2 separate regions of the Homo sapiens genome follow, and region 2 is linked to region 1. A link means that fine-mapping ties the variant in region 1 to the expression of a gene that starts in the linked region. Tissue or cell type: tibial nerve. Region 1 holds a variant in brackets; the other region holds the start of a gene. All regions are shown on one strand. Distances are between the middles of the regions.

Region 1 (8,000 bases):
TCTCACCATATACAAAATTCAATTCAAAATAGATTAAAGATTTAAATGTAAAACCCAAAACTATGAAACTATTAGAATAATGCAAGGAGAAATGCTACATAACTTCAGCCTGGGCAAGGATTTATTAGACAAGATCTCAATAACTCAGGCAACAATAGCAAAAATACAGTAATTACATCAAGTTAAAAATCTTGTGTATAGAAAACAATCAACAGACTAAGGAGAATACCTACAGAATGAGAGAAAATATTTACAAATTATACATCTGACAAGAGGTTATTATCTAGAATTATAAGGAATTCAAACAACTCAATAGAAAAATAATGTAATTTAAAAATGGACAAAATACCTGAATAGATATTTCTCCAAGAAAGATATAGAAATGGACAACAGTTATATGAAAAAAATGCTCAATATCACTAACAATCAGGGAAATGCAAATAAAAAGCAGAATGAGATATCACCTCACCCCACTAAGAAAGGCTGTCATAAAAGACCAAAAACAAAACAAAAAAAAGAAAAGAAAAAATGCTGGCAATACTGTGGAAAAAAGGAAAGTCTTATACATTGTTGGGAATGGAAATTACTACAGCCATTATGAAAAACAGCATGGATATTCCTCAAAAAATTAAAAATAGATATACCATATGATCCAGCAATCCCACTACTGGGTATATCGTCACAGAAAATGAAATGAGTATGCTGAAGAGTCATTTTGCACTCCCATGTTAATTGCAGCACTGTTGATTTTAGCCAAAACATGGAATCAACCTAAATGCCATTAACAGAGAAATGGATAAAGAAAATGTGGCATATATACAAAATTGACTACCATTCTGCCACTAAAAAAGGATGAAATCCTGTCATTTACAAAAAAATAGTTGAGCCTGGAGAACATTATGTTAAGGGAAATAAGTCAGGTACAGAAAGAAAAATATTGCATGATGTCATTCATGTGAAGAATCTAAACAAATTGATCTCGTAGACATTAAGAGTAAAATTGTGGTTACCAAAGACAGGAAAAACAGGGGAAGGGGAAGATGGGGAGGAATTGGTCAATGAGTGCAATGTTCCAGTTAGGAGGAATAAGTTGTTGGTACTTACTGCATAGTAGGGTGACAATAGCTAACAATAATGCATTATATATTTCAAAAAGCTAGAAGAGAGGACTTTGAATGTACTCATAATTAAGAAATTATAAATGTATAAGGTGATGGATACACTAATAACCATGATTTGATTATTACACAATGTATACATGTATTGAAATATCACATTGTATTCAATATATATGATTATATGTGTGTGTGTATATGTGTGTGTGCATGTGATCACATTAGATTTGTTATATGATACCTACAAACCTAGCATGTATGTGGGTTTCCTCAAATTTCTGTTTGTGTGATTAATTTTTTTTCCTTAGGATTACAGTCTGAGAACAGGTATAAAGATATATATATACACACACACATACACACACACACATACATACACACGTATATATCTATATATCTTCCAGGCCAGTTCCCATATTCTAGTAATAATTTCTTGTGACTTTACTACACTCAGGTACACCTTTTCCTATACCATGGTGGTCTATCAAGGAATCCTAGCATCATGTGGAATGTTTTAAAGATATCCAAGCGATATCACACATGTTTGAATTTGGAATCTCTACAGTAGGTATATAATTATATTTCTTTTAAAATATATTTTTACAGTTGATTCTGATACAAAACATCTTTTAACCAATTGAGAATTATAAACTACAACCTCTAGCATTCACTAAGTAGAGATGTTGCTCCTGATAGTGACAGGAGACAGCCAAATGCCTAGGCAAATAGGGGCAGGTTTCCGGTGAAACCCCACCTCCAAGCTGATGACAGTTTAAAGTCCAAAAGCCAGGCTACAAGTTAAAGCCTTAGACCAGATTGAGAAGTTGTCTTCTTATTTGGCAGGCTTTCCTCTGACTGGTCCCACCCTCCAACTATTTTAGATATAACTACTCTTTCTTAATTGGTTTTCTATACTGTCATGCCCACCTTTGAGTGGTGCCTTCACTTTAACCTTTTTTGCATACTCAGAAACCAGTCAGCACACACTCCCCATCCTGTGCCTATAAAGACTCCAGACTCAGCTGGTAGACTGGGGAGACAGCCTGAATTCGAGGAAGAGACAGCAGGACTTCGGGGAAGACAACCGGCCCTTCCCATCCCCTCTCCAGCTCCCCTCTCCACTGAGAGTCGTTTTCATTACTCATTAAAACTCTCCACCTTCACCACCCTTCAACTGTCAATGTGACCTCATTCTTCTTGGACACCAGACAAGGGCCTGGAACCCACCGAATGCAGGTACCCAGAAAAATCTGTCACACTGGCCTTTGCCCTCACTGGCAGAGGGCAGCCACCCAAGGTAAAGAGACAAGGGGCCAACTGAGCTGCTAACATGCTGCCATCTGTTAGACTGTAGACGGTGGAACTAAAGGAGCACCATAACAACCCCTCTGGGGCTTCAGGATCCTGAGCACCCTTGCACCTTGCCTGGCTGCCAGCCCTGCATGTAACTCACTCGTTTCAGTGCCTGGAGCGGTTGCCCAGGTCCAGCATTCACTCACTCGCACCTGGTCTGGCCATGAGAAACTCACAGAGCTTGTTTCTGTGTCGATGACCAGGACAGCCCACATGGTCCTGCACTACGTCACTCACACTCTCCCTCCCACAAGGGGTTGAGCATGGCAGACCAAATAAACAGGGCACCTCTATTGTGAGTCCAGTGAAGAGGCCAAGAAATATCCTGCATCACTACCAGAAAATGCAATATTTAAATATTTGATCTCATTTTCTCTATTTCTTATCCAGCTTGTGAAGATGTGGAAGATATCTTCTTGTGCACAATGAATAAACAAACAAGTATGCAAGGAAGTAACACAGATTTTGCTTCTCCCAGAGAACAGACAGATGCAATGAAGACACATCTTATCAATGGGTTTTGCTTTCTCAAGCTAAAGTCGGTTTTTCTTAATCCACTTCCATGGGTCCAGTAGAAACTTAACACGTATTATAATAAGTTGTCTCACAATTACACCTTGCAATATTTGAATATTTCTATTTCTTCTGCAGGATCTTAATGGGAGGTTGGAAGAAGATCCATCGAGGTTGTTAGTCAAACACAAATTCAAATTTTAAATTAATAATATTTATAATTTCTGAAAAATATACAACTTAACATGAAAATATATATTATAGCATAAATCCAGGCCAGATTTTGGCCTAAGTAATACATCCAAAGTGTTTCATTTTTTTTAAAGGCATCAGGCTTTTCTCTTTATTTAGGCTATTAATCTATCTTGTCCTTTTTACCTCCCTTATATTCTAGTCACTGGTTTTATTAGCAGTTACAACTACCAAACAATTACTTTTTATTGTATCACACACTAACCATGCCTCTCACTTTAAATTTTTATGGATCATATATTCTAATCTTAACCATAAAGGCATAGCTATATCCTAACCATGGGTACTCCCATTTTTTATAGTTTATTATAGATGCATAGACTTATCCATTGGTCCACTGTAAGTAAAGAATGTTGGAATTGTCAGTGAAAGACCAGGAACACCTCAAAAATAACATCTTAATGAATCAATGCAATGTTAGTTGGCAGCAGCATTGTCTTGCATGTCCAAATTACATGTTTTACTATCTGTTCCAGCAGAAGGTACAAAATGTTCACCATTATTTAAGAATTCTAAGTTTGCTTCATCCATTACTTTTCTTTCATTGTC[C/T]GATGCCTTGGTATCTTTTCCTTGAAATTTTTTCTTCATAGCAAAAATGAAAACAATATATAAAACAAGTGCTGGGAATCTTAAAGCTATAGATAAGCCCAAGTAGACCCTTCTGTGAAAAGAGAAAATAGAGAGTCGATTATTATTTTAAATGTGTAAAATATCTTACATTTTTTTCTCCCCAGTATGCATATCTTAAAAGAAAGAAAAACAAGTTACACATACAAATATTAAGAGAACAATTCTATTTATTATTTTCATTGGGGGCATAAGATATTTTTCTATTATTAAAAAAACATATGAAGCTACAGAAACTAAACCCCAGCTGTCTCTAGCCTTCCTTTGGGAGGGAGGAAAATACATAACTCCAGCCCCCTCAAGCCATCTCATTCTACCTAAGGAGTGGGAGACAGAAACTGAGAAGCAAGTTTGAAGTTCACAGTCCAGAGGTACAGGCTCACTAAAAGATTGAGGCCTTATCATAGAACTACAGGATGCTACTTTGTCTTCATCGCCTTACACCACATTAATAAAGGCTTATATACAGCAATTCCTTTTACCCAATACATTTTGTCTGGCTGTCAAGAAAAATTTGCAAGTCACATACTAAAAGACAATAAACACAGTCTGAAAAGAATAAGACTTAAAACCAGACCCAGATATGTCAGGGAATATCAGGGATGGAAATTTAAAACAACTATTATTAATTTGTCAAGTGGTCTAATGGATAATGTAGACAGAATGTAAGAAAGGTTAGCAATTTAAGTAAAGAGATAAAAATTCTAAGAACCAAAATGAAAGAATACAGATAAGAAAACTGTAACAGAAATGATAAATGCCTTCATGGATTTATTATTAGATAGAGCACTGCTGAGGAAACAATCTCTAAGTTTATATCAATAAAAAAAGCAAAGAAAAATAAGACAAAAGAAAGAAAAAACAGAATAACCAAGAACATTGGAAGGACTACACAAGTGTTTATAATGAAAATACTTGAAGGGGAAAATGAAAGGAACAAAATAAAGATTTCAAATAATAAGTACAGAAAATTTTTATTGAATTAATGTCAGACACCAAACCACAGATCCAGGAAGCTCAAAAAACACCAAGAAGGATAAAGGCCAGAAAAACTATGCATAGGTTTGTTATTTTCAAGCTATAGAAAATCAAAGATGAAGAAAACATCCTGAAAGAAACCAAAAGGAAAAGCAAACCTTATTTATAGAGTAGAAAAGATTACATCAGCCTTCTCTTCAGAAACCATGCAAGCAAGAAGAGAGCAAAGTGAAATATTTAACTGTTAAGAAAAATAAAACACCAACTTAAAAATTCTGTACCATATGAAATTATCTTTCAAAAGCTAAGTCGAAATAAAGACACTGTCATACAAACAAAAATTGAGGGACTGTTTTGCCAGTAGACTCTCCTTGCAAGAAATCTTAAAAGAAGTTTGTTAGAAGGAAAATGATATAGGTCATAAACTCGGATATACATAAAGATGGAAGAATATCAGAGAAGAAATCAGTTAAGGTTAAATAAAAAAATTATTCTAAATTGATTTAATAGAAATCAGTTTCTTTAAAATAATAATAGAAACAATGTATTTAATTATATATAATATACATGCTTATTCATATGTGTATGTATGCTTACAGTAAGTGGAGTAAATGACAGCAATGACACAATGTGTAGGAAAGAAGAATTAGGGTTATTTTGGTATTATAAGGGTACTCATAATCTGTGAACTAATAAAGTGTTACTAAAATATAAACTTGGATTAGTTCTAAATGTATATTGCAAATTCTAGGAAAATCACTGAAATTTTTATTTAAAAAGTACAACTAATAAACTAACAAATGAGAGAAAATGAAATTATATAAAATGCTCAATTAAAACAAAACGGGAAGACAGAGAGTGGAATACAAAAATAGGATCAAAGAACAAGGAGAGCAAATAGAAAATAGTAACAAATATCGTCAGTATTCTTTCAATTATATCAGTAATCACTTTGAATGTCAATGATATAAATACACCAATTAAAAGACCAAAATAAGCCAGGCATGGTGGCTCATGCCTGTAATCCCAGCACTCTGGGGGGCCAAGATGGGAGAATCAAGTGAGTACAGGAGTTTGAGACCAGACTGGGCAACAGAGTTGCCCATCTCTAAAACAAACAAACAAACAAAAAATCAAAAAATTAGCTAGGCATGTTAGTTCATGCCTGTGTTCCCAGCTACATGGGAGGCTGAGGCAGAAGGATCTCTTGAGCCCAGGAGGTTGAGGCTACAGTGAGCCATGTTCAAGCCACTGCTCTACAGCCTGGGTAGCAGAGTGAGACCCCATCTCAAAAGATAACAATAAGATTGTTAGAGGATTAAAACCAAGAACCAAACTATATGTAGTCTACAAGAAACTCACTTTAAATATGAAGACATACAGAATAAAAGTAATTAGACTGAGGAAGATATACACTGATAACATTAATCAAAAGAAAATGGGAGTACCTATTTTAATTTTTTAATTTCAAACAGAGCAGACTTCAAAGCAAGGAAATTTATGAAGGATAAAAAAGTCTTTACATAATAACAAAGAAATCAGTTATCCTATTATCCTTTTACAAAACAGAACAATACTTAACATGTAAGCATGTAAAAATGGAGTGTCTAAATATGTGAGGAGAAAATGATAGAGCTGCAAAGAGAAATGCAGTAAGTCTTCACTTAACATTGTCTACAGGTTCTTGGAAATTATAATTTTAAAAGTGAATTTATGTATTGTATAATGAAACCAATTTCACCATAGATAATTGGTATAAAAATAGTTACTATGGTACATAGTGTATTGTTTTGCTTAAAATCAGTTTCTAAGAACCTATGGACAATGTTAAGTGGATACTTAATGTAAATGAACCCACAATTATGTTGGAGACTTCAACATGCCTCTATCAGAAATGCACGGATTCACCAGGCAAAATTCAATCAGACATAGTTGAACTCAACAACACTATCAACCAACAGTATAACAGATGTAACCTACTACATCAAACAGCAACAGACTACAAAGTCTTCCCAAGCTCATATAGAATATTCACCAAGATAGACCACATTCTGGTCTATAAAAGATATCTTAAGAAATTTAAGGCCAGGCGTGGTGGCTCAGGCCTGTAATCCCAGCACTTTGGGAGGCCAAGGCAGGCAGATCACTTGAGGTCAAGAATTTGACACAAGACTGATCAACATGGTGAACAACATGGTGAAACCCCGTCTCTACAAAAATACAAAAAAAAAAAAAAAAGGCTGGGCGCAGTGGCTCACACCTGTAATCCCAGCACTTTGGGAGGCCGAGATGGGTGGATCATGAGGTCAAGAGATTGAGACCATCCTGGCCAACATGGTGAAACCCCATCTCTACTAAAAATACAAAAATTAGCTGCGTGTGGGGGTGCAGGCCTGTAATCCCAGCTATTCAGGAGGCTGAGGTAGGAGAATCACTTGAACCTGGGAGGTGGAGGTTGTAGTGAACTGAGATTGCACCATTGCACTCCAGCCTGGGCGACAGCAGTGAAACTCCATCTGAAAAAAAAGAAAAGAAAAGAAAAAATACAAAAAAAAAAAAAAAAATTAGCCAGGTGTGATAGCACACACCTGTAATCCCCGCTACTCAGAAGGCCAAGACACGAGAATTGTTTGAACCCAGGAAGCAGAGGTTGCAGTGAGTGACATCGTACTGCTGCACTCCAGCCTTGGTAACAGAGCAAGACGGTCTCAAAATAAATAAATAAATAAATAAATAAATAAATAAATAAATAAATAAAAATAAAAATAAAATAGAAGAAATTTGAAAGAATGAAAATCATGTAATATCTGTCCTTAAACCACAAGGGAATTAAACTAGAAGTCAACAACAGAAAGATCATTGGAAAGTCTCAAAATCTGTGAAGATTAAGCAATACACTTCTAAGAAACATATGGGTCAAGATGAAATTTCATGAGAAATTTAAAAATATTTTGAAATAAGTGAAAATAAAATTATAACATCAAATGTTATGGATGCAGTGAAAGCAGAATTAGAGATAAATGAAGAATATCTTAAATCAATCATTTAATCTTTTACCTTAGCAAACTAGAAAAAGAAGAGCAAATTAAATCCAAAGTAATCCGAAGATAATAGTAAAAGTAGGGCACAGTGAAATTTAAAATGGGACATGAGGGGAGAAAA
Region 2 (8,000 bases), 100 kb after region 1:
TGACCTTACCATCATCATGATCTTACTGTATTTAGGGTTTATCCACTTATTTTTCAAGAGAAAATACATGCATGTAGTTGAAAAATGCAAAAAAAAAAAAAAAGAAAAGAAAAGAAAAGGCAAGATTCTGCTTATAACCTTTGTCCCCTTATCCAGAAATCTGGTATGCTTTTTTATTTTTTTTTTTTGAGACGGAGTCTTGCTCTGTCTCCCGGGCTGGAGGGCAGTAGCGTGATCTCGGCTCACTGTAAGCTCTGCCTCCCAGGTTCACGCCATTCTCCTGCCTCAGCCTCCTGAGTAGCTGGGACCACAGGCGCAGGTGCGTGCCACAACGCCCGGCTAATTGTTTTGTATTTTTAGTAGAGACAGGGTTTCACCGTGTTAGCCAGCATGGTCTCGATCTCCTGACCTCCTGATCCGCCCGCCTCGGCCTCCCAAAGTGCTGGGATTACAGGCGTGAACCACCGCGCCCAGCCTTAATATGCATTTTTAATTAAATACATAATATTTTCTCTTTTAATATAAATGTAAGCATACCAGTATTACTGCACTCTACCTTTTTATCTTCTGTATATACTTTATATTAATAAAAGTCCTCATTTTGCTTATGGTAGCAGGGTATTCTGTTGTTCATAATATATGTAACTAGTTCTATATCGTTAACTATTTAGCTTATATCTAATTATTTCATATTAGAAAATGTTCTTAATATGTTATATGTCATTTTCTGTGTGGTCATATCTGTAGGATAAATTCCTACAAGTGAAGTTTTGAAGTCAAAGTATATGAGAAATCATAAGTTTCAGAGTTATTAAGCCCCTATTTTAAAGACCAGTAAAATGAGTCAACTTTTTACGTCAGTTGACTCTTTTATATAGAACAGTGGAATATTTATAAGGTTTAGAGATGTATTCTTGTTCATACATATATGCATAACACATATTTATGTATATAAAGTATATAAGCAGACACATAACATAGATATAGGTATATGTTATGTATATAGCATATATATGTGGATACATGCTATGTAGATACTTGCTATGTAGCTGCTCATATAGATACCTTAGATATGTAAATATCTAAGTATGTAAATATCAATGTTATCTATATAAGCATCCGATTTGTAATAGGATACTGATTATATAATATGTATGATATAGGTTATATGTACAATTGATTCTCACGTTTTGCAATAATTATGTTCCATAAAGTTGCTGGGAACACTGAATTTGCAAATATTAATCCATCATTCCTAGAAGAGATACAGTGTTAGGTGACTGTGTGGCTTTGGTCACAATATTTTAATCAACGGATCAATACATAACTTAATACATAATGTTTTATGTATGTTTTTGTTTAAAGACACCTTAGTATATACTGTTGATTCATTAACATTGAATTAGTGGCCAATAGCACTGTAGTTCATGCCTGAGGGAAACTTACATAGCATATGTACCTCTTCTGTCAGGCCCTCTAGGAGGTGGGAACAACGGGACAACACTTCAGGGCTATGCTTGAAGTCCATTTAAAACAGTAAACTCAGCATCGCAAAGCACAACTATGGAAACAATGTGGCGATAAATGCACTGTGAAGTTTATAGTATGGGAGCTGAGAGAGGAAGGCAGAGCTTCACTTTGTTCCACTTCAACTGGAAACAGAGCAACTCAAATTTTTCACCACTCTGCTCATGCATGCCAATGATCACAAAAGCCCAGCAGTATTAATTTTGGTGTCACAAACAAATTTTAGTGTTTAGACAAATTTTCTAATATAGAATCTGTGAATAATGAAGATCTACTGCATATTTTATGCATTAATTTACTCAACAAGGATTTATTGATTCTCTATATTATAAATGCATAAAAACCATAAATATATATCATGCATATTTAGTGGATAATGCATGAATATGGAAAAATCAATATCTGAAGATATTATCACTTATGTATATGCGAGTGTATATAAATACACTCATGAATGGAGAAACCCATACCTATGTATCTCTAAGAGAAGTTCAATTATTCCACTTTTTGTATGTGTTTTGTAGGTAAAGTGAGGAAAAAAATCAATAATTTGGTGGTCTCAAGGTAATAAGCAGCCCCTTAATAAATTTACACCACTTTTTCCACGAATATCTCTGTTTCTTCATAATTTAAAAGTTGGAAAATATTTATTTTTTACCAATTAATTCTATAATTGCAAATCTTTTTGAACGACTTGCAAGGCAGATAGTCTTCCTTCAGCTTTAGAGTTTTCTTTTTCTTTATACTAAACAAATATTCTTGAAGGCTTGAAGACTATTATCTCACCACTCAAGCCTTGTTTCTTTCAATTGATTAATTTCTACTTGTCCTGTCTTCCAGCTTGCTTTCTTTCCTATGCATATCATGTCCATTCTTGGAATCATTCAAAGATCCCTCTTACAACAAAAATAAAACTTACACTTCCTATTTGAGGGTCTTCACAGCCTAAATGAATCCAAGTTTTTAGTCCCATTTCCCAATACAACCATAAGCACTTGCAGATGTATGGAACCACTGTCCCAACAGAAAAGCTCTCTACCTTCATGTATATGTCTTCCATTCCTGGAATGTCCTTCCCTATCTCTTGGCTGTAATGCGGCTCCAAATCACACCACTTTAATGTTTCCCTATTTACCTCTAGTTGAAATAAACTCTCTCATCCTCTCATCCTTCTGTACCACTGGAGAACATACCCGAATAATCATTACTTTTTTCTGTTATTTCCCGTACTTTCCAAGACAACTATTCCACACCTCTCTCTTTTATGTTCAGATAAAATACCCATCCAGAAAAATAAGAAATGTGGGCACTTGGTTTCTCATCTCTCAGAAAGGTTAAATTGTATCAAGTAGGCCGGGAGCAGTGACTCATGCCTGTAATCCCAGCACTTTGGGAGGCCGAGGCGGGCAGATCACCTGAGGTTGGGAGTTCGAGACCAGCCTGACCAACACAGAGAAACCCCATTTCTGCCAAAAATACAAAATTAGCTGGGTGTGGTGGTACATGCCTGTAATCTCAGCTACTCTGGAAGCTCAGGCAGGAGAATCACTTGAACCCAGGAGGCTGAGGTTGTGGTGAGCTGAAATCACGCCATTGCACTCCAGCCTGGGCAACAAGAGCGAAACTCCTTCTCAAAAAAAAAAAAAAAAAAATGTATCAAGTAAGTACAAAGTACCTACAAAACTTGAATATCAATTTAGCCTTGAATAAATACCACACTTTTTACTTCATTGTGGCATTTTAAGCCTTATTTAGAAGCGTTTAATATATTTTGCTCTGAACATATTATTTCTGAGTTCCAAATTATTGACATAAATAAATGTTGAGGACACAATATGTTTATAGACAGAGCCACAGGCATTTGTATGCAGCATTGCAACTCTTCCCTGAACAGAACAGGTCAGTTCTTCACAGTTTGATTGGGCTGAAGTAGAGGGCAGAATCTTACCAGCCTCTGCTTATTTCTGTTTAGCTTTTCATATTTAAGGGGTTATAGAAAACCAGTGCAGGCCAAGTGACCCAGTTTCTAGCATGTACCTATGGAACTGAGGAGGATAAAAGGGAAAACAGCATTTCCTAACTTCTTAGATTGTTCAGAGGAGAGAATTTCTGCATCCCCACCTTACTTTCACAATAAAAATAACTGTCTTATCAGGGAAGCCACCTTCCTGAATGGGTGAAGGGGACCATTATTTATTGAGCTGTTAATTCTTTCCAAGAGCTGTGCCCAGAAGATTTTTTTCTCTTATTTGAACAGAGATAAAAAAGTTATCTAGAAAATCTCTTTCCCCTCACCCTAAATCAAACGAGTTGAATGGAGGAAAGTGAGGTGATTAAGTGACTTTGAAACATATTTTCCACCCCTCCACCCGCCCACTCCTACTTATCCAGTTAAAGTGAAATCAAAGAAATAGGGAGCCTGGTATAGTAATTCAATACAGTTTATACAAATAATTATCTTATAGTATATTTTAAGAGAGTAACTAGAAGTCCATCCTTTCAGACTTCATGTTTCATTTGTTTAGAAAGCAATAGAAATAGGACTCCAAACTTTATTTTTCACTTTATAAAGGTATGATTTACTCTTATTTTTGAGTATATAAATCTGAGGCTCTTCTATTTCTAGAAGGGATATTTACAAGGCTTTAAGGGCTCAGAACAAAAGTGTGGAGAAGACACAGAGCATAAAATCTGTAATATTTATCATAACTACCAAAAACATTTTCACTGAAATTTGTTAAAATTTCTTACATAAAAGAAATGTTTTAATTAGACAACCTCGACGGTTCTTACCTTGACTTTGAATGCTACAGCAACTGCAACAAGTCCATCCTTTTTCTGATGTTAAAGTCTCACTTTAAATGGTTAGTTGGCTTTTTATTTGTTTGTTTTTATGAGTCCAATGATGATTAACCATCTTATTAGGTCATTGTCCTAGGCAAACAGAAAAAACATACCTAGCTAATTCTAGGAGTTCACCCCAGAAGCCTATCTTTTAAACATTTTATTAATAATTTCTCAGAATGTACACATTATGTTAACATTAGAAAATAAATTATTTCTGGGAATGATTTATTTCTTATTCAATTAAGTTGGTTGCATAAGATTTTCTTCTTTAGAAATACAAATACAACACATTATCCAAAGTATTTAAAACTATTCCAAATAGAAAATATGTCAAGGCGATTTTTTAAAATGTCCCTACATGTTACATTAGCATTCAAAAAATAAAACATACCCTCTTTGCTTGTTACATGTGTATGGATCTAATATGACGTACATGGACACTGGATATCTCACATGGAATACTAAATTGCCAATTAATTACAAGACTAGTCTTCTAAATGACAAAAATCAAGACTAGTTTGTATGATATATTCCTTACATCAATGTGTAAAGGAAGAATGATCTCCTTCTATTGACTTGCTCTTTAGAGAATGGAAGACCTTCACTCAGTTGAAACTTTTCTTGAGTAAGGATGAAGTCAAATTAATTAATTCAGTAACTCAAACATATTTGACTCCCTACTATATCTCAGGCACATGGCTGTGTTTTAGAAGTGTACTATAAAAATATAAATAATAAACGGAGTCTTCTCTCACATGTATATATACACACACATGCATGAGTGTATGTATATATGTATTTATGTGTATGTGTGTATGTATATAGCAAAGAGAGAATGCATGTATGAAAACATTGTTACCCCTTATCACTGACAGGACAGTTGTTGATACAGTTGCAGCAATATGTATTTAATTTCTATATCACAGTTATTTGATAAACTAGTTTTTTTTTTTTTTTTTGAGACGGAGTCTTGCTCTGTCACCCAGGCTGGAGTGCAGCGGCACGATCTCGGCTCACTGCAAGCTCCGCCTCCCGGGTTCACGCCATTCTCCTGCCTCAGTCTCCCGAGTAGCTGGCACTACAAGCGCCCGCCACCACGCCCGGCTAATTTTTTCGTATTTTTAGTAGAGACGGGGTTTCACCATGTTAGCCAGGATGGTCTCGATCTCCTGACCTCGTGATCTGCCCACCTCGGCCTCCCAAAGTGCTAGGATTACAGGCGTGAGCCACTGCGCCCAGCCTAGATTAGTTCTATACCTGGTTAATTCATGGAAGTATTAGAATAATGAAAGGAACCGGAGTGTGGAGGGAGAGAAGGATTAGAAAATGTGGGGAACACTGAAGTGTAGACCTGGGGCAGGGAAAATTAGATATAGGCTCCCAAACACCCCTCTGTTGAGTCAAAATCTACTGGGGAGCCTTTGTCAAAAGTGCGATCCAGCCCCACACCCAAGAGATTCTGATTCACGAGTTCGGAGATTATGCTTTTTAAATAAGCACTTAGAATAATTTTTACATACTGTCAGCTTTTGAGAACCATCATAGCAGAGATACTAAACATTAATTATCAGTTTTATGGCTTTTCTTTTATTCAGAATGGGAAGACAGTTTGGATATTCTCATGCTAATGGTTTTCTCCTCACACATCCATTTCATTCAAGACACATCAATTTCATTTGGGACAAATACATGCATAGAATGAAGATAAAATAGTACAAATGCACTGAGAAACTTTCTAATCCCTAAACTAACGCTATCAGTGGTAAAATTCTGGAATGTTTTCAGAAGTCAAAGAGCATTCTCTGTGCCCTTTTTTCTTCCTATGTAAGTAATTAGACTTCCCTTTTTGTGGGACTTGTGGAAAAAATAAGAGTGGTCAGAGGAAACACATTGCAACACTTTTTTTCAAGATAAATATTATGCTAACAGCTGTGGATCAATACAACTCCAAATTTGCTTAAAACAATCTGCTGTTTGTTGCCGCAATAATCATCACAGTTCTGATGAAATATTATGGGCTTTGAAGTTTGATAAACTTTGATACCAATGTCTCTGCTACTTGACAGCAGTATAAATTTCCTAAGTTGTTTCACCATTCTAAGTATCTATGCTTTCATCCATTAAGTGGGAAGGCTATAGTTGTAATAAAGATTTGCTCTGTGTAAACTGCCTCACCCAGTACCTGGCACATTATAGATTCCATACCTAAATAGAGTCATTGTATGGCATTTGCATATTGTCCATTTTTAAAGCAGTTAATTCATATTACAAGAGTAAAAGTCAAGTCTCTGAAACACGTCCCCAGCAATTTTTCCTAATAGTTTTTAGTCTGAGTTCTCAGATGGGTACTGGGTGCGTATTCCCAGAAGGAAACTTCAGGCTCAAAGCAGACCTGCCATTGCCTACCCACCCCACCTTCCTTAGCTGGTCAAGACGTAATTACAGAAAGCTGCACTCCCTGGAAAGAACCCCCATGTCTCCATACCCACTAAGGGTCAAAGCTCTGGTATCATTATGACTAATCTTATGGCAATTCTCTCTCTTAATGTCAGTCACCACCATAAGAAGGTAGGGGCAAGGCGCGGTGGCTCATACCTGTAATTCCAGCACTTTGGGAGGCCGAGGCAGGCGGATCACGAGGTCAGGAGATGGAGACCATCCTGGCTAACACGGTAAAACTCCCTCTCTACTAAAAATACAAAAAATTAGCTGGGCGTAGTGGTTAGAGGTGACAGCGTCCTGGCAGCCCTTGCTCCCTCTCCGCGGCACCTCCTCCGCCTTGGCGCCCACTCTGGCCGTGCTTGAGGAGCCCTTCAGCCCCCCTCTGCACTGTGGGAGCCCCTTTCTGGGCTGGCCGAGACCGGAGCCGGCTCCCTCAGCTTGCTGGAAGGTGTGGAGGGAGAGGCGCGGGCGGAACCCGGGCTGCGTGCGGCGCTTGCGAGCCAGCGCCAGTTCCCGGTGGGCGTGGGCTCGGCAAGCCCTGCACCCAGAGCGGCGGGCCGCGCCGGGCAGTGAGGGCCTTAGCACCTGGGCCAGCAGCTGCGGAAAGTGCGCCAGGTGTCCCAGCAGTGCCGGCCGGCCAGCGCTGCGCTGGAATTCTCGCCAGGCCTCAGCTGCCTCCCCCTGGGGCAGGGCTGGGGACCTGCAGCCTGCCATGCCTGAGCCTCCCCCTCTCCCCCTGCCGCCCCTCCTCCCCCCGCCGCCCCACACACGGCAACGCACCACGGGCTCCTGCGCCAGCTGGAGCCTGCCCGAGGAGCGCCGCCCCCTGCTCCAGGAGCACCTGGTCCCATAGACCGCCCAAGGGCTGAGGAGGGCGGGGCGCAGGGCATGCGGGACTGGCGGGCAGTTCCACCTGCAGCCCCAGGTGAGGCAGCCTCTGGGTGAAGCCAGCTGGGCTCCTGAGTCTAGCCAGGACTTGGAGAACCTTTATGTCTAGGTAAGGGATTATAAATACACCAATCAGCACTCTGTGTCTAGCTCAAGGTTTGTAAATGCACCAATCAGTGCTCTGTGTCTAGCTGATCTGGTGGGGACTTGGAGAACCTTTATGTCTAGCTAAGGGATTGTAAATACACCAATCAGCACTCTGTGTCTAGCTCAAGGTTTGTAAATGCACCAGTCAG

Evidence for each region. PIP is the estimated chance that this variant, and not a neighbour inherited with it, causes the effect.
Region 2: it holds the start of SLCO1B3, and the variant in region 1 is fine-mapped to the expression of SLCO1B3 in tibial nerve (GTEx, PIP above 0.99). The same link has a PIP of 0.9 or more in nasal epithelium.

Annotation. Positions count from the first base shown.
Region 1 is chr12:20,911,898-20,919,897 of GRCh38, reverse strand. It overlaps SLCO1B3 (solute carrier organic anion transporter family member 1B3), which reads right to left. Exons shown (of 16, transcript NM_019844.4): 16 at 2,987-3,894. The coding sequence ends at 3,651. The region is part of intron 13 of SLCO1B3-SLCO1B7 (SLCO1B3-SLCO1B7 readthrough); the gene reads right to left. The region is part of intron 1 of LOC124902894 (putative solute carrier organic anion transporter family member 1B7); the gene reads right to left. Among named protein-coding and RNA genes, the nearest start is that of SLCO1B3-SLCO1B7, 100 kb to the right of the region's middle. The variant C/T (reference allele first, on the strand shown) is at 3,783.
Region 2 is chr12:20,807,085-20,815,084 of GRCh38, reverse strand. SLCO1B3 (solute carrier organic anion transporter family member 1B3) reads right to left here and starts at 4,380. Exons shown (of 16, transcript NM_019844.4): 1 at 4,321-4,380; 2 at 1,447-1,561.